3 separate regions of the Homo sapiens genome follow, and all the other regions are linked to region 1. The links come from fine-mapping of genetic effects on gene expression. A gene starts in region 1. Each other region holds a variant in brackets. All regions are shown on one strand. Distances are from middle to middle.

The links.
Region 2: its variant is fine-mapped to the expression of DSTN in whole blood (TOPMed, PIP above 0.99).
Region 3: its variant is fine-mapped to the expression of DSTN in whole blood (INTERVAL, PIP above 0.99).

The regions. Positions count from the first base shown.
Region 1 is chr20:17,566,294-17,574,356 of GRCh38, forward strand. DSTN (destrin, actin depolymerizing factor) reads left to right here and starts at 3,782. Exons shown (of 4, transcript NM_006870.4): 1 at 3,782-3,918. The coding sequence starts at 3,916. It also overlaps a transcript of BFSP1 not described here. RefSeq lists an enhancer at 2,745-3,312 and silencers at 3,723-3,912, 3,933-4,222.
Region 2 is chr20:17,502,047-17,510,109 of GRCh38, forward strand. It overlaps BFSP1 (beaded filament structural protein 1), which reads right to left. Exons shown (of 8, transcript NM_001195.5): 5 at 6,843-6,950. Among named protein-coding and RNA genes, the nearest start is that of BFSP1, 25 kb to the right of the region's middle. RefSeq lists an enhancer at 2,466-2,989. The variant A/T (reference allele first, on the strand shown) is at 3,601.
Region 3 is chr20:17,644,543-17,652,605 of GRCh38, forward strand. All of the region lies in intron 3 of RRBP1 (ribosome binding protein 1), which reads right to left. Among named protein-coding and RNA genes, the nearest start is that of RRBP1, 34 kb to the right of the region's middle. RefSeq lists enhancers at 3,684-3,773, 3,838-4,541 and silencers at 3,954-4,043, 4,693-4,822, 7,434-7,513. The variant A/G (reference allele first, on the strand shown) is at 4,252.

The sequences.
Region 1 (8,063 bases):
CAGGCTCCTCGTTAATGTATCATTTCTTCTTCCCTGCCGCTTATATTAATGGTTTTAAATTCAAGTGCCTATATGTTCACAGATTAAGTATGCAAAATGTTTTCTAAACGAAATTGAAATATACCAATCTCATATTTAAGGAGAGACCTTATGTGTCTTAGTCTGTTCAGGCTGCTATAGCAGAATACCATAAACTGGGTGGCTTACAAACAACAGCAATTTACTTCTCATAGTTCTGGAGGCTGTGAAGTCCAAGATCAAGTCACCAGCAGATTCAGTGTCTGGTGAGAGCCCACTTCCTGGTTCATAGATGAACCTTTTTGCTGTGTTCTCACAATGGTGGAAGTGGCAAGCAGTAGTCTAGGACCTCTTTTTTTTTGAGACACAGTCTCGCTCTGTTGCCCAGGATGGAGTGCAGTGGCACGATCTCAGCTCACTGCAGCCCCTGCCTCCTGGGTTCAAGCAATTCCCTGCCTCAGCCTCCTGAATAGCTGAGATTACAGGTGCCTGCCACCACGCCTGGCTGATTTTTGTATTTTTAGTAGAGACGGGGTTTCACCATCTTGGCCAGCCTGGTCTTGAACTCCTGACCTCGTGATCCACCTGCCTCAGCCCCCTAAAGTGCTGGGATTACAGGTGTGAGCCACGGTGCCCGGCCTAGGACCTCTTTTATAAGGGCACTAATCCTATTAAAGGGGGCTCTGCTCTCATGGCCTAATCGCTGTCCAAAGGCCCCAACTTCAAATACCATCACATTGGGGATTACCTTTCAGCTTCCGGAGGGCATAAATCTTTATTAGTCTATAGCATTGTATGAAAACTCTTTCCCTCCGTGTGGAGAGGAGGAATGTCAATGTCTAGAAAAGCTGGGTGTTAAATGCAGAGGCTGAAGTTCAGTGGGACCTAAAAAAAATGGGGGCTCATCTTAAGTTATGATAAACTGATATATAAGTTTGATAAATTGTAAAACATCTTCAGATACTGGTTCACTTATTCAATACTTATTAAACACCTACTATGTATCAGGGGCTATGCCAGTTCATACATACGCATCTTAAATACCCCATGACCTCAAGGAACTCCCAGCTATCTGGTAGTAATGGAAAATGCACATAAATAATTACAGAGCTACAGTAATTGTAGGGAAAAAACCATGAAACCTCCTAACTCAAAGTATAGCATCTGCATCTCCTGGGGCCATCTAAGACTCCACCCCTCAACCCCGGAATCTGCAGTTTAACAAGGATCTCAGGTGATTTGGATCTTTATTAAGATTTGAGAGGTGGCCGGGCGCTCGGTGTCTAAGGCCTGTAATCTCAGCACTTTGGGAGGCCAAGGTGGCCAGATCACCTGAGGTCGGGAGTTCAAGACCAGCCTGACCAACACGGAGAAACCTTATCTCTACTAAAAATACAAAATTAGCCGGGTGTGGTGGCGCATGCCTGTAATCCCAGCTACTCGGGAGGTTGAGGCAGGAGAATCGCTTGAACCCGAGAGGCGGAGGTTGCAGTGACCCGAGATCGCACCATTGCACTACAGTCTGGGCAACAAGAGTGAAACTCAGTCTCAAAAAAAAAAAAAAAAGATTTGAGAAGTGATGAACTCTGGGATTATAGAAGGAACTAGGGGGGTGAAGGAGTTGTAAGGGGTACGGGGCACGAAAAAAAAAAAAAGAAGGAACTACTATTGATCCTTGGGAAGTGGTAAGAGAAGTCTTCAGATGCGAAGGGTGATAGGAACATCCCAGGCTGAAAAAATAAGCAGGCCCATGATCAAGGTAGTTAGAACTAGTAAGAGGTGTTCTGGAATGAGAAGTTTCGTCTGGGAGGGGCAGTGGGCACTTAGGAAGATATGGGAGATAGGGCAGAAAAAGTAGGCTGAGGCCAGAGGCAGACGGGCCAGACTGACCTGCTGAGGGTTATGGAGGAAGCCACAGCAAATTTTAAGCAAGAATGTAACAAGACCAGTCTTATGTTTGGACCTAACTCTGGTGGCAGAGTGGAGGACGAAATGCAGGAGAGGCTGGAGCAAGCAGGCAGGCATGTATCCTTAAATGAGCACCATTCACTTTTGGACTAGAAAGGAAGTCTGAATATTAAGAAGTGTAAGGGCCACAGGGTCCTAGGCAGGCAGAAAAGCAAAGGGTTCCAGCTGCAGGAGGATACAGGGGGGTTCCTTCTCAGTTCAGGAGTGTGGTCTCGGACTGGCATCTTCAGCATCACCTAGGAGTTGTTAGAAATGCCCATTCTCAAGCATCATCTTAGAAGCAGTGAGGGAACCTTGGGGATGGGGCACACAAATCTAGCTTTGAACAACTTTTCCAGGTGATTCTGATGCATGCTAAAGAACCACTGCTCTAGCCCGCCAAAAATCATGTCTCAGGTGGTAAAGGCTTAGAACTGCACAACTTACTGTCTTTTTTAAAAAGAACGAGGGTAATGAGAAATGGGTTCCTATGTTGAGTGGGGCAGAACAAAAGCCACATACAACCTAGATTTTACGTAGTGCCGGAAAAAAAAATACTGACCATCTTGTCCAAAAGTCTCATATTTGGAGAATTAAAATAGTTTTGGTCGAGGCCATGATGTTCTCGGTAACCTAAATTAATTTATAAAATTCTTTGTTCCCTTTATTTCCCACAAAAACACCCGCAGCAAAAACGCTGGGATTCATCTGGGCCCTCTGAAAACCGTGTTTCCGACGCAACCGCCCATTAGAAAAACACAATTCCAAATTAAAAACCCGGAGAACTGAGCGGCGGGGCTGGCGCCACCGTCCCGGGACAGCGCGGCCTTTCCCAGCCACACCCCTGCGCGCCGCCGGCCTCCTTCCCCGGCAGTTCCCAAAGATAAATAAATGCTCCTTGTTTTTCCAGACCTGAAATTAACGGTGACTCACAGAGCACTCTGCATGGCCACGGTCGCCTCGGGAAGGAGGAAAAATGTGCAGACTTTTTTCCCCTCACGCGAGGGCAGGACAAGCCAGACTGGGCCAATCAGGGGAGGGCGGCGGGAATCGCACCAAAGTAGGTAAAAAATGCGGGAGGCGTCCCCGCTGCCGCGGCCCGCGACTCCGCTCCCGTGGGTCCTCCCCCAGTGCGTTCCCCCTCCTCGGGCCCTGCCCTCCCAACCCCCAACATCTCTCTCCTTCCACCACTGTGTCCCTCTCCCTCACCTCTCCCCTTGCCCCCACCTCCCCCACTAAGTGCCCCCTCGCCCCTCCCCCCACATCCCCCTCCTCTCCCCACACTGTCCCCTCTCCCTCACCTCTTCCCTCCCCTCTCCATCCTCCTCCTCCCCCAACTATGTGCCCCTCGCCTCTCCCCTCCAAATCCCCCTCCTTCCCACACTCTGTACCCCTCTCCCCCGGCTCTCCCCTCCTTTTCCCCTCCACGGCCTCGCCCCGCCCCAGCGGCAGGCACACCTGGCCAGGTGGCTGCCTCCCCGCGCGGGCCATGCCTGCACAGTGGGTGGGGCGTCAGGTGGCCCCGCCGAGGAGGCGAAGGAAGGCCACCCCTCCCCCATCATCTTTTGCCCGCCCCTCGCCAGCAGGAGCCAGCCCAGTCCGCCTTCTAGCCTCCTGCAGACCAGAGAGGACGCACCCCCACCCCTAAACACTTTCTGGTGAGGCGGACCCTGCCCCGCAGCCTTCAGCAGATGAGGGAAGCTCCCCTCCGAGACTCTGGATAGCCGCCGGGGGGGCGTTGCCTGGCCGGCTGGTTGCGTAGCAACGGCAGGCGGTGCGTGACGTGCGCAGCCGCGTTCCGTCCTGAGGCGCGCCCGCCCCGGGGTAAGCTCGCGCCGCCGCGTCAGCTCAGCGCTGGGTCTCTCGGTCCCGCAGCCGTGAGGAGGACGGTCTGCATACTCGCTGCCCGCCGGCTCCCTCCCCCGCGTCCCTGCGACCGCCGCGGCGAAGATGGTGAGTAGGAGGGAGGCCGAGGCGTGGGCCGAGGCGGCCGGGAGCAGTGTGTCTCTGGGGCGCCGCGGAGTCGGGGCTAAGGGGGTGAGCCGTGCCTCAGCCCGGGGAGGGACCCGGTCCGGCTGCAGTGTCCGGGCTGCGGGTGAGGGGGGGTCTCTGGGCCTCCGTCTCCCGCCGTCCTGGCTGGGCCCCCGCGCCCCGGGGTGGATCCGCGGCTGTTGCGCAGCTCCCAGCTGGGGCGAGGCCGCCGCCCTGAGCGTGGCCTCTGCGGGTGTCTCCAGACCCGGCCTTGCAACAACTGGCTGGGGTCGAGCGCCCCCACCCGCTCTGTGAAATCCATCCGGGGGTCTGCACACCGAGGCCGGGGAGTGGGGGGCGGGGGGCGTCGGAATCCGGCCACCGTCCTTGTTGGCGTGGGTTTCCCCAGAGCTGGCGCTGAGGCGCTTGGTGACTTGTGCGCGTTCCAGCCCTTGAGGTCTGTCCATCTCAATAAGGAAGATAAAGCCTTTATGGAACAGTCCTAGAGCACGGAATGATCGCTAACGAGCAGGATCCTGGCATGATTTAGAACGGGGTGGCCTTGCAGCTCCTTTGTTTTTTTCTTTTTATCTGGCAATCGGCTTCCAGCAGCACTCTCGTCGTGCTTGTCAAGCTTGGCAGTGTCTGTTTTAACCCTTCCCTGCCCGATCTGTCCGTGTATGGTTAGAATTTTTTTTCTGACCTGTAGACAGTTGGACTCTGCCAGAACTTGGTGCGCAAGGTGTGGGCATGATGCTGGGATGCTGATACAACCAAATTTAAGAGCTTTAAAAACCATTAAAATACTGGAGTCACCAGAAAGTAAACAGGTGCTCATTAGTATATTCTATATGATGGACATTTTGCTTAATTTACATATTTTCCCCCTTTACACTGTCACTCTAATTAGCTATTTAAAAACGTATTCTCAACTGAACTATCAGTTGGAACATTTTGTCGTTTTCGTTAGTGTGCACACACTGTTACCATTTTTGGTCAGTGATTTGCAGGCGTAGCCTTACCAGACTTTGCTAGAAATATTACACTGTAATTGCATCTGTCTAGAAGCAGTTGGTACCAGCTTATCTGCATACAAACTGTTTTCACTGTATAACAGTTTTGGTTTTCTTAAGTTACTACAACTTCCGTGAACATGCAGGCGGCCCCTTAGTGAAAGAAAAGATAAACCGGTAGTTTCTTGATGACTGTAGATATGTATGTAATAGGGATTTGATACTGTTCAGTTTTTGGTTCTTCTTTGGTTTAATGCTGTAAGCTACAAAGTATCAGCATCTTGAGTCTTTTTAATATCTAATTATTAGAAATTTAATAACATTTTAAATGTATATGCTACTTTATACTGAAAGACTTAATCTAGGGGCTTTGAGTTATGGTACGCTTAAGACCATTCACTCTGTGAAAGTGCTTTGAAGCTGACTAGGGTCTGCTCTAGAGACTTCTGATTTGACATTATGCTTTTTTATTGAGTGGCTAATACAGACTTTATTTTTCTGTTTGAAAATAAGAGACCAAACATTTTACCTTTAGTTAAATGCTTAGTTTTAGTTAAAGCTTAACTAAATTCAAGGAAGGAAGGGTCTGTTATATTTCCTGGTTCTTGTGAGGAGTGGGAGAAATAAAAATTAGAAATGAGCGATTTCCAAATACGCTTCAAAATTGTTGGCTTTAGGGAGATCAAGAAGACCTTACAAGTTACTCTTAGAGTTCAGATTATAGACCCCCCATTTTTAAAGGTTATTTTTGTTTTTAGCCTTATGAGCGCAGGAGCATCTTTGTTTAGTTCAGTGATTAGAGAATATTGTGGGTATTATCCCAGAGTCTAGCACTTTGCTTTTAGCTCTTTTGGTTAGATGCTTGGTTCCAAGTTTCTTTTAAGATTAAATTTTAACTACCGATGGGTTTGTTCTAAATTAGCAGAATCACTTCCTTGTACTCACCAAGTCTTTTAGAAGCACCTGAAATAAAGCAGTTTGAAACCAGCTGGGCGCTTCAGGATGAGATTAGATGTTTTCAGATGTCTCCTCCAACAAAAAACAAACAACGTCTGCCTCCACGTGAACCACAATTACAGACCCCAAACAAAACGTGTGTGTGTGTGTACTGGGTGTGCCAGCCTCCTTATACAGAGATTGTTTAGTAGCCCATCATCAAGTTACTAAGGTTATTTGCTCAGTAGTTCTACTGGATATGGATTGAGACATCACACCTAGACTTGCCTAGCTCCTCTTGTAACCAGAGTATCTTTTATGCTTCTTGGAAAGTAAGAGTGTAGTCTTGCCCCTGAAGTAGAGTTAAAAGGTTTGCACGATAATCTAACCCTTAACCTTATCCTAATCTGGACTGTGGTCTCACAGACTGAACTAATTGGCGCAGTATTCAAGTATTCTAATACTTGGTGATTAGCAAAAACACTACAACCCAGTGAAATAGGTTGGGCATGTATTCACATGCCTATTTAACATATGAGAAAACAGATTGTAAAGGATTAATTGACTTGAGACAAATCACCTTTTCCAACTCCAAGTTTTAAAATAATAATTTTGAAACATTTTAAGCAGAAAAGTACACAGAATAACAGATCCTTTTGTACAGGAAAAACAGGGCTATCTTATTGCCATATTTCAGGTTTTTATGTTATCATTACAGCTAAATATGCATCATCTTCCTCATCCCACTCCCTTCCCTCCCTAGAGTTATAACCATTCCTGTGTCAAAGACATAATATCCTGGCTGGTTAAGGAGATGATTTTATTCAGGCTATTGCAATTAGGAGAGCATTCCTGATTGCCTTATTTGAAAATATGCAACAGGCCAGTTCTTTGCAGTTACCTGTTTCCCAGAACACAAAACGGTGGGGTGGATTAACCATCACTGCTTTCTGAGAACACAGAGCTCAGGTAAAGTTCACAGTAGTCACCTGAAATTGATATTCATTGATAGTTCCATACTTTTAGCTACTTAATCATTCATATGTATTGCCTTGATGTGCTTTTAAAACTTACGTAAATACTGTGCTTCATGTATCCTTTTGCAGCTCTGTGAGAAAAAATTAAACTTTGTGGGGGTGGTTTTTTTTTTCCCAGGGGAGGGCAGCTTTTGGATTTATTTGTAGCTTTGGTTCTTCAACTGCTGAATTGTGTTCTTTTGTATGATTGTGCAAGTTTATCCATTCCCCTGTTGATAGACATTCAGCCATTTCCTAATTTTTTGCCTTTTTTTGGTCTATTTAAAGTTTTTATAATAGGCAATTTCCATGTCATATATTGCTATATATTACTTCTCTAGCCCCAGTGTGTATCTCTCCATGGTGTATATCTAGAAGCGGAAGCCCTGGATTGGAGCATACATATTTTCTACTCTACTACTGGTTCGTTCTGGTTGTATCTCATCATTAACAGCTTGTTTCTACATTGCCTTTCACCACTTAATAAGAGACTTGAAACCTTTGCCAGTCTGATGGTTGTGAAATGGTTTCTCATTATTTTATTTTGCATTTCTTTGATTACTAGTGAGCTGACTCTTTTCATATGTTTATTGCATCTTAGGTTTTTACACGCATGCTGCATCCTGCAAACCTGGCCATTCTGTAAATACTTACCATCTTCACCTAAGCTTATTTGCAGAGCCATAAAGTAAATGTAGCAGTAAAAAAAAAAAAAAAAAAATCAGCTGGATACAGTGGCCTATACCTGTCATCCCAGCACGTTGGGAGGTTGAGGCAGGAGGATTGCTTGAAGCCAGGAGTTGGAGACCAGCCTGGACAATATAGTGAGACCTTGTCTGAACAAAAAAATTAAATAAAAATTAACTGGGCATGCTGGCATGTGCCTATACTCCTAGCTATTTGGGGGACTGAGGTGGGAGTATTGCTTGAGCCTGGGTGTTAGAGGCTTCTGTGAGCTATGATTGTACTACTGCACTCCAGCCTGGCCACAGCGGGAGACCCTGTCTCAAAAAACAAGAACATGATTATCAATACCAGAACCTCATACTGAGGAGTAATATTTCTCTTTTCTGGCACATAAATTTCTTTCCAGGCCCCTTAGCCAGCTAATTACCAGAAGTTCAATACTCTCTGTTAATTCTATCCACCTGCCATTTTTAGG
Region 2 (8,063 bases), 64 kb before region 1:
GGCAAGAGAAGGAAGAGATGGAAAAGGAGACGGAGAGCGGCTGCCTCAGCTCCCAGTTCCTGGTTCCTGATTCCTGATGCACACCTGCTCTCAGATTTCATGCCCTGCCTTTTATACCCTGCTCCTTTGGAAAAAAAAAAAAATAGTACCTTTCCGGTGGAGAAAACTGGCAGACAGCACCTTAACCAAGTGATCAGAGTTATTGTCACCTGTATGAGGACACAGCCACATAACGAAATACTCAGGACACAGCGTCACTCCATGGGGGTCTTGCCAAGAATGCAGAACCTCCATCTAATCCTGAGAAAACATCAGGGAAACCCAAAAGGAGAGACATGCCACAAAGCCACTGGTCTGGGTTCTTCCAAAGCATCACGGTCATGGAAGACAGAGAAAGACTGGGGACCATCCCAGTATGGGGGAGACAATCAAGACATGACACCTAAATGTGAGTAGGATCTCGACCAGGAAAAAACACGCGTGGAGCAACTGGTGAGATTTTAGTGCAGTCTATTAATGCGACAGGATCACTGTTAATTTCCAGGTTTTTATCATCGGCCCGTGGTTTTGTGGAAGTTGGGTGAGGGGTATATATTGGAAGCTACTGTGCTGTTTTTGCAACTTTTCAAAAATCTAAAATTACTTCTGAATAAAACAAGAGTCCCCTTCCTGTTTCAGCTAGTGTGATCCAGTTTCTGTTTCTCCCAAGAAATCTGGATTCAAACAGTCGCCTGTAATAGCAAATACAAGTCAGACACACTAACGCCTGGTGCAGCCACATCTCACCCACACCAGAGTGTTCAGACACTCCAGGAAACACTTTCAAGGAATATGGGGATTGAAAAGACCCCTTTGAGCCCCAAATCTCAAAGAAGTGTTGGAATTACATGGTGAGGGAAGTGTGTGGGGCTGTAGAGAACATAGAGGGGCCATGTGTTGAGGGATGGGGCGGGAGGGCTCATGAGACAGACTATTCTCACTTTTAATTTTTGAGACAGGCAGGGTCTCACTCTATTGCCCAGGCTGGAGTGCAGTGCTGCCATCAGGACTCCCTGAAGCCTCCACATCCTGGGCTCAAGTGGTCCCCACACCTTTGTCTCCTCAGTAGCTGAGACCACAGGTGAATGCCACCATGCCCAGCCAATTAAAAAAAAATTTTTTTTTGTAGAGACAAGGTCTAATTATGTTGCCTAGGCTGGTCTTGAACTTCTGGGCTGAAGTGATCCTCCCACCTTGGCCTCCCAAAGTACTAGGATTACAGGCGTGAGCCATAGCACCTATAATCTCTCACTTTTCTATGTTTGAAATCTTCCATAATAAAGAGTAAAAGAAAAAATTACATATGAAGAGAATGTACCCCAGATCACTGACCCAAGAGCTCTGGGGTGGCCGTTCCTTTTGGGTGTGGGTTCCCCAGCCCAGAGCGGGGGTAGTGGCTCATGCTGATAAGTCCTAAGCTGGGTCAACTCATCAACCTCACAACAACCTTATCAGGGAAGGGCTGTCATTATTTCCACTTTACAGATGAGGAAACTGGGGCACACTGGCAAAGTGGCTTGCCCATAAATACCACAGCAGGATTCGAATCTACCTGAACAAGGTCTGAAACACCTCCCAGAACCAGGCCACCCTTGCCCTGCACCTCAGCCTCCTCCCTGCTGCAGGCAACAATATGCAAGCACACACGTGCGTGCACACACACACACTCTGTCTCCAGGGCCCCTGCAAACTCCCCATTCCCACACAGCAACAGGCCAACACCAGCCTGTTCTCTCTGAAGACATGGGAAAGTCAGTGTGAGCCATGCAGAGACCTCTCCTTGCAGGTTTTCACTTAGCAAAGTTTTAAACTGTAAATAGAACCACAAAGCATCACAGAATGGGAAATGAGAGCCCAGGAAAGTCACCTGTGATCTTTCTACCCTACAAGTGGAGTGCAATCTTTTTATGTCTCAGGAAGTGGTGATTGTTGTTTTTGTGGTAGTGGTAGGGGGTGGAGGGATGGGGTGTTTTCTTGGGTGTGCATTTGTGTTTGTTTGAAGAAGGCTGCATGTTTTAAAGGCTGGAGATCCTCTGCTGGAACACTGCGGGAGGAGCTCCTGTCCTGGGCGCCCCCACAGCCCCCATCCCCCACATGACCATGAGGCCCAGAGCCCTCCAACTCCGTACTGGTCGCAGATGCTCTACGGGATTCTGCTGAGTCCAGTGAAGTGATGACTTGGTTTATAAAAGTGGACTGATGTCTATACCGATGTGGTTTTTACAGCTCCATAATTTAAACCTTTCATCAGAAGGAAGAGTGTTCAGGAAAACCAGTAAGAGCTCCTGTCTCAGGAGCTCAACAGGAATGGAGATGCCTGTGACGAGAGCCACTGTGGCACGGCGTCCACTGCCACCCAGCACCAGCCTGGCCGAGGAGAATGAGACACGGACCCTCCTCTAGAAGGCCGCAGTCCAGCAGGGGAGGCACGCCCAGGGCATCTCAGAGGAAGAAAGGGGCTTCCAGGAGGAGGCAGGACCGGTCCTGGGAACCGAGGAAGGAAAGGGACTTCCAGAAAGGAGAGAAGGAATGAGCAAAGGGGAGGTCCCAGAAACTGCAGGAGGGGTCAGGAGACGAAGAGAAGAGAGGTTGGCCCAGGGTTCCTCCAACGGTGGGGCCATGTGGCAACCTGAACTTTATCCGGAGCCAGGTGACTGCTGTTTCTGCCTGGACCGTTAGATTGCCTGGTTTATATCTGTCTCCCCACTGGGCTGTGAGCCGCTGAGGGCACGACACAGGCAGGAGCCTGACGCGAGCCCCATCTGGAGGGGTGAGCTCTCACCTCAGTCCTTAGGACCCCAGACACCTTTAGGTGTAAGGTTTTTTTTTTGTTTTTGTTTTTGTTTTTGTTTTGTCTTAAAAAAAAAAAAAAGGAAACTCATTACATACTGTCTTACACAAACTAAACCACTAGATGGTGCTAAGTGACTTTAATGAGAAATGAGACATGGGCGGTTCCCACTTTGCAATTTTAAAAAGTGACTTTCTTTACTTCCCTGTCACAGAAACTCTCAGTCCATGCAATTTAGGGAACTAGAATTACCTGTCCTTTCCTCTCCACCTGTCCGAAGTGCTTCCTCCGGGGCTCTTACGGGTATATGTGCACTTATTTGAAGGAGAGGCTTCCAGCTTCCAGCTCCAAGCCCAGGCACTATTCTCCCATCGTCCGCCCAGCGTCTCCCAGACTGAGCCCGCAGAGCCACGTGGAGGGCTTAAACAAGGCGCACCGGCCCGCCCCAGAGCTCCTGGGTCAGTGGTCTGGGGTGCCTGTGAATCTGCATTTCTGACAAGTTCCCAGGTGGTGCCCCCGCTGCTGGGACGGGGACCTCACCCTGACGACCCCTGCTGTGGAGAGTTCGGGAAGCTTCGGACGCCCTAACCATAGGCGGAACCCGCTGCCACGGCCCTGGTGCTAGCAGACGCTCTCTCTCGGCCCGCCCTCCACCGAGTTCCGGCCACAGAGCGGGCCCTGCCCGGCGGTGTGCGGCCACATCTTCCTTCAGCTCTAGCTTAGCTGCTACATTGGGAAGCCACTAAAACCTTTAAAACCAGCAAAAACCC[A/T]GCCACAAACATTTGAAATGAGGCCCAAGCCTGGGACACAGGGGGACCAGGTGGAACATTCGCCCACTCCCTGGGACCCGCCCTTACCCTGTGGTTCTCAGTGTGGCTCCTGGACCAGCCGCAGCACCATCACAGGGACACCTAGACATGCAGCATCCCGGGCCACACCCCAGACCCACTGAGTCAGGAGCTCCCGGGCGCACCCAGCCACGTCTGGGTTTTCATCAGAGCTAAGGAGGCAGAATTTTGGCCCCCGTGACCTTTTCCCCTTGGTGCTACACCCTTGAATATGTTACATGGCAAAAAGGGACTTTGCAGATATAATTAAAGTTCTTAATCAGTTACCCTTTTTTAAGGAAAGGAGTTTATTCAAGATTATCCCCTAAAAACAGAAGTCAGAGAAACGTGTAAGTCCAAGTCATTGAGATGAGACGCAGGAAGAGGGTTCAGAGTTCGCTGCCGGCTCCGAACGTGGAGGGGCCTGAAGCCAAGGAGCCTGGGCAGCCCTGACAGCCACTCCTGGCCAGCAGCCGGCAAAGAAACAGGGTCCTCACTCCTGCCAAGAACTTGAATGAGACTGGAAGCAAATTCTCCCCTAACAGCCTCTGGACAAGGGCCCAGGCTGGCCAACATCTTTCTTTCTACCTTTTGAGACCCAGAGCAGAGAAACCGATAGGACCCACCCAGACTTCCCACCTACACAACTGCGATGACACGGGTGCTGGTGGTGACTCATCAAGGCAGCAACAGAAAATGGACACAGCCGTGTTTCATCAGCTACATGCTATAGCTTGTTACTGAGTGAGTATAAGCACATCTGTCATTTTATTTAAAATGATTCAGTAATATTTTGATAACTGTTTTAATATAATTAGTTTCTTTTTTTTTTTTTTTGGAAACGGGGTCTCATTCTGTTGCCCAGGCTGGAGTGCAGTGGCTCAGTCTCAGCTCACTGCAGCCTCAACCTCTCCAGGCTCAGGCAGTCCTCCCATGTCAGCTTCCTAAGTAGCTGGAACCACAGGCACGCACCACCACGCCCAGCTAATTTTTGTATTTTTTGTAGAGGTGGGGTTTCGTCATGTGGCCCAGGCTGGTCTCAAATTCCTGGACTCGAGCAGTCCACTCACCTTGCCCTCCCAAAGTGCTGGCATTACAGGCGTGAGCCACCACACCCAGCCTGGTTTCCTTTAAATTATCTGTATTTTATTTTATGCCTTTACCATCATTTTTCTGAGAAGCGGTCTCCATCAGAATGCCACGGGTGGGAGTGGAGGAGGCAGCACAGAAGAGATGTTTGAGACCCTGCTTTAGAGACGAGGGCAGCAGGGAAAAGCCAGGAAGTCCTCCTGCAGCCACTCAGGACAGAAACAGGCGGCCAACCAGCGGTTTCATTTCATGTTCTCAGAAACCAGGTTAATCTGTTGTGAAATTTCTTATTTTGATATTCAACAAATACCTGTACATAAAGAGAGGAACATTCTTTTTGTCCTGGAACTGGAATTTGCCATCTAGGCTGGGCTCCTTCATCTTTCTCAGTATCTCTAGGGCAGTGGTTTTCAACTTTATCACCACCGCCCCAGGAAAAACCACATTTCTCATTGCGAGCCATACACATCAGATAGGTAGGTGTGTGTGTGTGTGTGTGTGTGTGTGTGTGTGTATTTCAACATATCCATATGGATATAGAGAGATAAAACAAGGGCTTCACAAAACAAATCCTCCCTTTCACTTGCTGTACACTCTGTTTTTCTTATTATATTTTAGTCTAGCATTTTGTTGACTTCCTTTTACATGCCAGTCAATTCTACTGAGTTCATTTTACATCCAAAAATGAGTTGTCACTAGCCATTTGGAAAACACTGGTCTCTAGGACCACGACTGGGCTTGTATCCACGTCCCTATTCACATACACAGCACACACACATACACATGACACACACACACCACACACACTTCACATACACATCCCACATATATCACACATACCATGTATATCACACACACACACCCCATGTACACAAACACATACAACCCTTATTCTATCCTGTCAGAGCCTCAGAAGAAACCACACAGGCCCCAGTCACCAGGATGAGGCACATGGTCCCTGAGCCAGGGTTTGTCTCACAAGAAGGAGGAGTTTTAAGTGCCTTACTTGGTTCCTCCTGCTGCGATCGTCAGTTCAGGGGACCACCACAGACCCGGGTTTGCTTTCCAGCAGCCCCTGAGAGCTGCTGCACTGTGAGTTTTGTGTGGTGCGTGCTGGGATGGGAATTAGGATGTGAACTCCAAGGTCCCAAAATGAAATCCTGAGCAGACATGGGGGCACTGGAAATCAATAAAAAGCGCTACATCTAGTTGTGGCTTCACATTTTTAGACAGAGTAACACATAACATCCAAATGGTCCAGGCTTTCTGAAGTGTCCGATTTTTACACGTTTTGCTCTCTTGTCCCCATGTGTACTTGTCAAACCAAATGTCAACTTACTTTTTGGTTTGGGAAATGTGGTTAGAGAGCCATACAAAGGTGCAGTATTTTAACCCAAGCGTCCCTGTGGAATGACCTGCTGTAGGGTAATGAGAAAGAGAGAGAACCGGAAGGAACAAAGAAGATGAGCCGGCAAGTAGCCAAGAAGGCACAGGCCACAGGACAGTTTGGGGCTTTTCTGTTTTGTTTTCAAATTAAGCTTCACCCAAAAGGGGTGGGGGTAGAAATGTGAGCTTTCCACCAACACGTTTCTAACTAGAAGCAAACACTGATACAACCACTCTTGCCGGGTTGTAATCAAATTCCGAAGGAGAACTGTTACCATGAGAAGGAAAACAGAAGCACAGATTTGAACAAGTGGAGGATAAAAATCCCTATGGTGTCCGTTTCTTCTTATTCTTACGAAGCTTGACCTGGGCAAAATGAATGCATGATGTAGACACTGGGGCAGCCTAAGCCTAAGACTCGGTGGGGAGGGCATGACTCGAAGGAGTCCCAAGGGGCACCTCTGAGGGGCCAGGAATGAGCGTGGCACCTGTGTCCCCCAGCTCAGGACTCTCCCTGTGTCCTGGAAAACTCCTCAGTCCAGGCCAGAGCAGAGCGCTTGGCCACCCACTCAGAAAACCCCGTTTCTGCCAGGAACATAGGATATGTTCAGCGTGTGACAGCTCCTCAAGCTGCATGCGTGTGCCTGCGCGTAACACCTCCATGAAACATGTGGGAAGCCCCAATGCACACGCGGCAGACTCGAGCGTACCTGTGCCTGCAGCTCCACTCTCTGCGCCTGCAGGTGGGAGAGCACCTCCCGGCCCTCCTCCAGCTGACTCCGCAGGGCGGCCACCTCCCGCTCCGTCAGGAGCTTCTCCTGCACAGAGAAGGCCAGAGTCAGACTCATGGGACATGCAGAGAGGAAAAGGGCAGAGAAGGTGCGGGGCCCTGGTATGGACGGAATATCCGTGTCCCCCTGAATTCTGTGTTGAAGCCCTAACTAACTCCCAAGATGAAGGTTTTAGGAGACCTTTGGAAGGTGTTAGGGTTAGATGAGGTCATGAGGATGGGGGGCCCCATCATGTGATTAGGGTCTTTGTAAGAACAAGAAGAGACACCAGAGCCCCCACCCCCACCCCCTGTCTGTCTGTCACGTGAGACACAGCAAGAAGGCAGCCGTCTTCAAGCCAGAAAGAGAGCCCTCACCAGACACCAATTCTGCTGGCATCTTGATCTTGGACTTCCAGCACCCAGGACAGTGAGAAGTAAATGTCTGCCTGTCGGCCCTCCCATCTGTAGTGTCCTGTTATAGTAGCCTGAGAAGACTAAGCCAGGCCCACAGCACAGCCATCAATGCCTTTTGCTTTGTCTTCAAAGTCTGAACCTCCTTGGGAGTGTGACATGCCGGGACCAAGTACCAGGAGACCAGAGCTTAGACCTGGCTGTGCCATGAACCTACTAAGAGACTCTAGAAAAGGATTTGACTCTCAAAGCCTCTGTTTTCCCTTCTGTGAAAGGGAAAACCTGGAATGCACACTCTCGAAGAAAATGAAGGCTGGTTGGAGCCGCGAGCCATACGCTGTGCTCGGATGTCAGCGCAGCACAAAGCAGGAGCCATCAGCCCCAGTGGGTGAAAGGGAAGTGACGCTCCAGGGAATGGCTAGAAGGAAATCCTCTGACCTCTCCACACTCTGCCAAGCAGGTCCCTCTCTCCTGACCTGCCTTTCCACGTCTATTCAAAAATATTCAAATTGTTTCACAAAGGCCTGACTGCTCAAGAGCCATGCATTCTGACACAGAGCACATTGACTCGAAGCCATGCAAAATCAAACACCAAGTCTACAATGAGGGTTTCTGTGTCCAGAGGCTGCATGGAAGACAGCCTCTGCTTCAAACACCTTACAAAGTGGCTGCAGCAATGACATAGACATACAGGAAAGTGACCGTCTAACTTGATTGTAGAATTGCTAAGCTAAGACTCATAAAGATG
Region 3 (8,063 bases), 78 kb after region 1:
TCCAGGAGACAGAGGTCACTTGTTTCAAAGACACCTCTGTAGTTACAGACTGGGCAGGGCAGCTGCTTCAGCCGGCGTCTAGCTGCTGGCTGCAAGGACATTTCCCCCTCCTGACTCAGAAAAGCGTCCTGCGCCGTCCGATGTGCTGGGCACCAGCCATGTGTGGCTACTGGGCACCTGCAACGTGGCTGGCCTGACTCGAGATGTGCTATGAGTGGAAAGTACACGTGGAATTTAGAAGATTTGGTATGAAAAAAAAAGAATGTGAAGTATCTGTAATAATTTTATATATGGATTGTATGTTGAAATAACATTTTGGATAAACTGGGTCAAACAAAATGTATCGTTAACATTCAGTCCATTTGTTTCTTGCTGGCCTTTTTAAATGTGGCTGAGGACATTTACATCACATCCATGGCTCACACGTGTGTGGCTCACATTCTGTTTCTCCTGGACTGGCTGGCCTATTCCTTTCCAGAACCAGGGACCCCCAAAGTGCCCCCTGCTGAATTCCTGGCAGCCCCTGGTCCTACAGAGGTTCCAGAGTGACCCAAGAGCTCTGGCCTCTCTTGAACTCTCTCCTTAAAGACCACCCTTCCAGGCCCCACGGCCCCTACTGCACTGCTGGGTGGGGAAACATCTGGATAAGGCAGCTGGAGGGCACGCGCTCTAGGACGCCGCTTCCTGCACAGGGGCAGCATGGCCACATGCTCACCCGCCGCAGGCTCAGTCCACAGAGTGCTCCCGAGAGTGTTCTCGGAGCGGCATTCTCATAAATCTTTATTAAAACTTTCTAACGTAATTCCATTCTATTAGATATTTTAACAGAAAAATAAAAACTTGCAACACGCGAAACAAACGCAAAGCTGCGTACAGCAAAATGTTAACGCTCTCCTCTGCCACCTCTCATGGCCCCCCAGAAACTTCCACAGCCTTTGCCACACTCATACAAACACTACCTTTTATACTGTTTTTAGAGAGCTATAACTTTACAAATCATTTTTCATTAAATCTTTTAGGTAAAAACTCTGCTGTCTCAATTGTCCCCAAATCAAGGGCAGCACAACTGAAAGAAAAAAGGAAAGCCCTCAGAAGCAGAGGCAGGATTTCTGGGCCTCCAGATGAGTTGCATTTAAATAACGTACTAACGGGAGCCTAAGGCGTGCCCAGCACATCACTTAGGGCTCCAGCAAATACTCGAAGATACCAGTAATCTTCCGAATTGTGAAATCTTAACGCACTAAACTAAGTCTCTCAGACTCAACACCTAGTCTGTGAAATCACAGACTTCAAAAGGCCCAGGGTGCAGTGAATGCTGGAAAAGCTCAGCTCCCTGAGGGCTTGCTCCTGCGGCTAACGCTTTGCCCATCTTGGTGGGTATGAAATACCAGGAAGGGACAGGCCAGGAGGCCTGGGGAGTGACCAGGGAGCAGGAGACCCAAGAGTAGAGACGCAGGCCAGTGTCTCACTTTGATGGATAATCCAGACCTCTGTCTGGCAGGGGACACAGCAACACCCCAGGGGCCAGGCCCTGCAGGAATGGGACAGGTACTGTGACAAATAACCACACAGGCCTGGGCTCAGGGGGGTGGCCTCTCCTGAGCTGGGTGGTCCTGGGCACGGCACTTCACCTCCAGGTGATAGCTGCAATGGGGGAATCTGAGCCAGAACCCTCAAAGCCACAGGCCTGCCCAAGAGCCTGGAAACGAGATTTTTAAGTGCTATCTTCTCATCTTTACTGCTGACAGCTAACTCAATAAAAAACAAATAAATGAATGAAACCACTGTACAGATGAACAAACACATCCGTGGGCCACGTCCAGTCTGCAGGTCACCTCTGTCCTTGGGCAGTGGGGCACCAAGGTCAGAGCAAGGCCTCTGGGACCAGGTGGCCTGGAGTCGAATCCCAGCTCAGCTCCTTCCCACCTTTGTCCTTGGACAAGTGGCTTAACCTTCCTTTGCTTCTGTTTCCTTGCCTACAAAACGGGGATGATCATTGTTCCCCTCACAGCGTGGCTGAAAAGAGTAAGTTGCAACGTGCTTGGAACCATGCCTGGCGCAGGGTAACGCACAGCAAAATAAATCAGCATGGCCGGCCTTCAAGCAGCTCACAGCAGCTCAGATAACGCACCTCACACCCCAAATTTCAAAATGACTCTCCCTTCTGCGACCACACTGGGAGGCTCAGGCACCTAAAATTAAACTCATCTGGCAAAGAGGCACTTAGTGTTCTCTCTCACTGTCAACTGTGGCGTCCTTGGATGAGGCTTTTCTCTCTGTATAATTTCCAGGATCCCCCATGGCCAGGGCTCAGGCATAGAAGGAGGATCTCAGCCCTAAGTGGCCTCATGAGACTCAGCGGCCAGCCCCCCACATCAGCTGCTGGAGCACCCCTGCACTGTGCACACCTGGCTCTCTCAGTCCACGGGGAGGGTATCAGAACCACTCCAGGAACTGCCGCCTGAGCCCTGGCAGCAGCTGGTGGTTAATAGGAGGGGATTATCGCCTTGGCCCTGGGATGGGCCCCACAAAAGGCTCCGGCTCAGCTCCAGCTGCTGCTACAGGTGCCCAGCAGCCCTGATCAGGGCAGGCAGGGCCAGGTGGTCTCTAGACACAAAGTATGTACCACCTGCATACCCAGCAGTTCGTAAATTGCTGGGCCTGGAAAGTTAAGTTATAGGTTGGGCTGTGGCCAACAGAGGCAGAGGACACAGGGCCATAAGGCAGAAGAGTGACACAAGGGGGACCTGGAGAACAATTGTGGCAGCAATGCCGAGAAAGGCTTTAAGGCATTGGGCCAAGCATAGCTGGGTAAGGACACGGTGAGGGGCTTTGGGCCCTAGCGTGTCAGACTTGCACCCGAGGTTGGACTAGGTCCAAGTCTTCATAGGCCCTGGGAATCTGGATTTTATTCTGTAGGCAACAAGCGATGCCTAGGAAGGAGCGTTTGAATTTGAGAAAAAGATTTCAGGATGCCCAGGGGGATGCGGCTGGAAGCAGGCAGACCAGCTGGCCTGGACCCTGGTCCTAAGAGCCTATCCCCGCTGGGTCCTAAGAGCCCAGGACCAGGATCTGGGCCCGAGTATTCAGGAAGCTGAGCTGGTGGGAGAGAGGCCCAGGTGTCAACCCAGGGACTCTGGCAATGGAACCTGAAACAGCATGGACTTGAGGGCTTGGGGAAGAACTCCAGTGGCAAAAACTCTCATTTCCTAAGAGATTGTCCAGATCAGTTCTGAGGGTGCCTCCCTCAGACACACACATGTAGTCTGAATAGCTGCTGCCTCCGGGCCTGCACGGGGTGACTCCAGACAGTGCAGACCAAGGCACCCAGCATGGCTGCCCAAGCCAGATCGCAATCTTGGCGTGCCTTCCACGCCCTGTAGTCCCCAGTCACCCGACCCAAACTCAGGTCTGCTGTAAGAAGGTGAAGACCCTGGGGCCCCAGGAAAGGGCTCCCACATGCCTCCTGGAAGCCCAGCACCACGCAAGCAGTCATCAGCCTCTGCAGACCAAGATTCAGAGGCTGAGGACAAGCTCCCCATTCCTGCTGACCCAAAGCCAAGGGCATCTCTGTCTCTCTCAACCTGAGGAGCCGGCTCCCTTCAGGGTCCCACCCCGAGGTGGGACGCAAGACGCTCTCTAGGGAGGAGCTCCGGCCAACATCACTGCTGGCCTCTAACTGCTCGTTCTTGGACTGTGGCCGTGAAGGCTCCTCCTGAGCCTGTGGGGGAAGTGAGCTTTATGAGACCCTGGAGGAAATGAAGATCTACCAAATGCTCCTGGAGGCAAACTGCGACTCCTGCTCTCACTCATTGCTCATCTGCCCACAGCTGAGGCAGGCCCTGGGCAGTGCACAAACAGTGGACTCCAGGCCCAGCTCAGGCCACAGAGCCCGGCCTTGCCCAAGCGCTGCTCAGCGCTCCTGACAGGAAGCAGGCCAAGGAGGCGCAGCTGCACTTGACCCCAAATGCCACGAACGGTCACATCCGCAGCTTTAAGGGCAATGGAGCTCAGTACAAATAATGTCAAGAACAACCCAATTCAGGGCCTTTCAATCAGTCCTTTTCCTTTAGTTGGAGAAAAACGTAATCGGCTACAAACTTGGGGACTGGTATATTTAATGGTATCTAATGGAATTTAAAATATCCTATAGATTGAAGAACTGTTTTCCTCTTTAAAGTTTTGTTTTTTCCTCCAAATTTCAACAAAACCAATTTTATACCTGGAGTTAAAAAAAACCCACATCACAAT[A/G]TTTTTAAAAGAACGACAATTCCTGGAGGACCTCTGGGCAAGGCCCTTCCCAAGGCACACAGGCTGGCCCAAGGAGAATACAGTTTAAACAGCAATTAGGACTCTACCTAATGCCTGCAGAAAACGGCAGGGGATTTTTAATCCCAGGCTGTCTGACCACAGCCGTCTGGGGGCAGTGACCGGAGTCCCAGCCTCAACACGTTTTCAAGTGGCTGAAAAGAGATTTCTGGAAGAGTGTCATCTAGCAGCTTCTCACACTGATACTTGGCTCGCTTCCCTAGGGGATGTTTTTGTTCTTCTTTAAAAAAAGAAGAAGAAAAGAAAAAGTTGGGTTTGAAGAACTTCCACAGAAAGTGAATAAAGGGTCATAAGCCCCAGAGAGTTTTCTTCAGAGCTTCAGACCCTGAGAAACTGAGTTAGGTTCAAAAGAAAAAGTATCTGACTTGATCTCCGTGTACACCTCTCTGTGCAACTGCCGGCGAGAAGGGCACAGGGGCACCTGCCGGGCAGGGCGGGGGCCTCGGGAGGGGCTGCCCACACCGGCCGCTCTGCCATCTGCTGGTCATGTGCATGACTTCTGGGAAGTCTGAGCTTTGCTTTCTGCTTCTGTCAAACAGGTAAAAATTCAAATCCACCTTAGAGAATTGCACGAGGGATAAAGGCATGGAAACCAGCCTCCTAAACTGCACATCTGAACAAACACCTGGCTGGGGAGAGCAGTGGCGTCAGACCTGCTGTGCTAAGCAGCGCTGGGTTTGGAGCAAAGCAGGCTACACATGGGGAGGACAGGCGTGGGTGGGTGGGTGGGTGAGGAGCTGGGAGCAAGGGGTGTTCCCATCACGAAGTCAAATTGTTTAAGGGCCCTGCTACCCTAGACACCTTGAATACCGTTTCCTGGGGGCTTGACAACTCTTCCCCATACCCCCTGACCTGTGACCCCAGCCCCATTAGATTGCAGAACACGACTTGGGATTTTAGGTTACATTTCCTATTGTAGGGGTAGAATGGGGGCTCAGCGAGACTGCACACGACACAGAGCTCACAGGCCCCCTCCCACCACGGCACTGCCAGGCTCCAGAATGTGGGAACTGCCTTTAACTTCCCACCTTACCTCAGTTCATGAATGCCTCCCAGATGCCTGTGTGCTAGGGCTGGGACACGCACTGGCCTCCTTCTGGAGGCCTCAGAAGAGCTGGCACTACCTTTCCTCATTCCAGACCCCAAAAGGAGCAACGTGTTCCTTGCTGCTCCTCAGAGGACACAGGGCTGCCTCAAAACACCCAGAAGGATGAGAGTTCCATCAGCTTTGGTATAATGAGGGCCTGTTTATTTGACTTAGAGACACATAATGGAGTTGTTTCTTCTCCATAAAAAAAAAAAAGTTATAGAAAAACTGGAAAATGCAGAAGGGTGAAAGGAAGATACTAACATTTACCCATAATCCTACCTCCCAAAGGTGGCCTCTTTTTCCCACATGGACTTATCTGACAACGTGGCAAGAATGGGCCTCTGAAATGCCTGTTTCTGAGTGTTTGCCACCTCATGGAGGTTGGGTGGGTTCTCCTGGGCCATGACACAATGGTCTCTCTGGCCACAGAGTAAAACTGGCTTGCATCAGCAGGCTGGGGAAAGAGGGCCCCGCAGAAAGCAGGCCCACAGCCAAGACAGAAGTGCCATGTCCCCAGGGTTACCCACCCCCGTCCATTAGGCAGAAAGGTCACAGGTCCTTGGGTGAGCTCCAGACTCCCCAAGAGTGCAACAAGTACCCTGCATCCCCGCATCCCCTGAGTGACGTGCTAGCAGAGGTAATGAGGAAACACCTGTTTCCAACCAGCAGCAACAATGAGTGAAGCAAGCTCCAGTTAAAAGTACACTGTTCTGGAGCTCATGCTAACTGTGGGGTCTTCAGAATGTACATATGTACTTCCTCAGTCTACGCCCACACTGTAGGATCCAGACTTGATTCCAGGTGCTGGGTGGGACAGCTCTCCTGCCAGTGTAACACCCAGATGGTGATTAGTACAAGATCAGGGCAGCCCAGGTGGGAGGCAAACCAGCATAATCCTGCAAACAAAGACTCAATCTGAGGATAAAAATAGATTTTTTTAAAAACCAACACCACTGCATACACACACGTCTTGTGTTAGAAACTTGACTTTCCTAATAGACACTGTGCATAGGTGCTCAGTTAACTATCGGAGAACAAACCAGCTAAAGCCTGGACACGTGCGTCAGCTGACAGTACCCGGAACACGGGGAAGCTTCCATTCTGGGGAATTTCCACTTCTCGAGGATCCCATCAATTTCCTCCTCTCCAAATATTTAGTAAAGAATTTGTGCCTTTCATTTCCAAAGAAAGAGGCTTTCTCCTTATCCCACGTCTGGGTTTATAATGCTCCCTGCTCCCCAAACTTCCTGAAGTTAGAATCATTCCCAGAGTAGCACAGCAGCACCGTGTGAGGAGTGCTGAGTCAGAAAACAAATCTTGTGGGCCTCTCATCGTAAATTGTGAAACGTTTCTGGAAAGCAATGCAGCACTGTCTTCCTAAATTAAAAACGTACCCACCTTTTGACTTGACAATTACTTATCTAGGACTTTATTTTGTAGAGACACACAACAGTGTATGTACATCATTGCAGCATTAATTTTAGCTGCAAAATAGCTGCACACTACTTAAATGTCATTTAAATAAATTACAATACAGTCATGCTAGGGAATATTATGCAGCTGAATGTGGCAGTTTCGCAGGTGCAATACGGAAAGATGTCACCAACACACTGTTAAGCAGACAGCAGTGTGCACTGCAGCTCCCGTTTGTGGGTGCCCATGTGAAGAGCACAATGAATTTACCCCCCCGCCCCTCCACCCCCGGGAAGCGGATGGTGATTGGGATGGAGCAAAAAGACTTTCTATTTTCACCTTCCATGCCTCCATACTGTGAATTTTGTTTGCTGGAAACACATATTTATGTAATAATAAATTGTAAAAGGCAAGGATTAGGAAGGCAGGTGTTCTCTGTCAAATACAGCCATGGACAAGTGGTAAAAACCCGCTGCAGGGCCCCCATCTGCTCTTGGAGGAAAATCAGAGCAGAAGTTCTGGAAGAGCTCCAGCCTGGGTCTGCAAAAGCATGTCCTGGGCCTACCACTCCTGCCAGGTCTCCCTCTGGGGCACCTGTCAGCAGGGGGCCCTGCTGGACCAGCCAGGTAACAGGTAGGGCTAGGAAGACTGAAGAAGCACTTCAAGTCTCTGGTGGAGCCCAGCTCCAGTACTGGTTTTGCTGCTAATCTGTCCTGTGCTATGGGCCAGCCACAGCCTCTGTGCAACACCAACACAGGTCTGCACAGACCGGCTAGTGATCCAAGAGGCCACCTCCTTTCAGAAGGTCCTGTTTAGAGCACTGCTGTGCAAAACTTTCTGCTCTGACTGAGATGATCTGTCTCTGCACTGTGTAAAGGGAGCCACTAGCCACATGTGACTAGTAGGCACTTGGAATGTGGCTAGTGTGACTGAGGAATGGAATCTTTAATTTTATTTACTTCTGACTGATTTAGGTGATAATTTAAATGCTCCCATGTGACCAGTGCCTCCCATATGGGACAGCACAGCCCTAGGCCCTACACCTCCCCTGCCCAAGTCAAGGCCTCCTGGACTCATGGGAGGAGTTCCCGTCCTGGCCTGCTCCACACCGGTGATCTAGAACCCACTGCCAAGCACCTCCCAGATCCCCGCAGCACAGCCCTCATGCCACCTCACCCCTCCCACCCAACACACTCACACCCACAGGTCCCTGTGTTTCTAGATGCCCAGG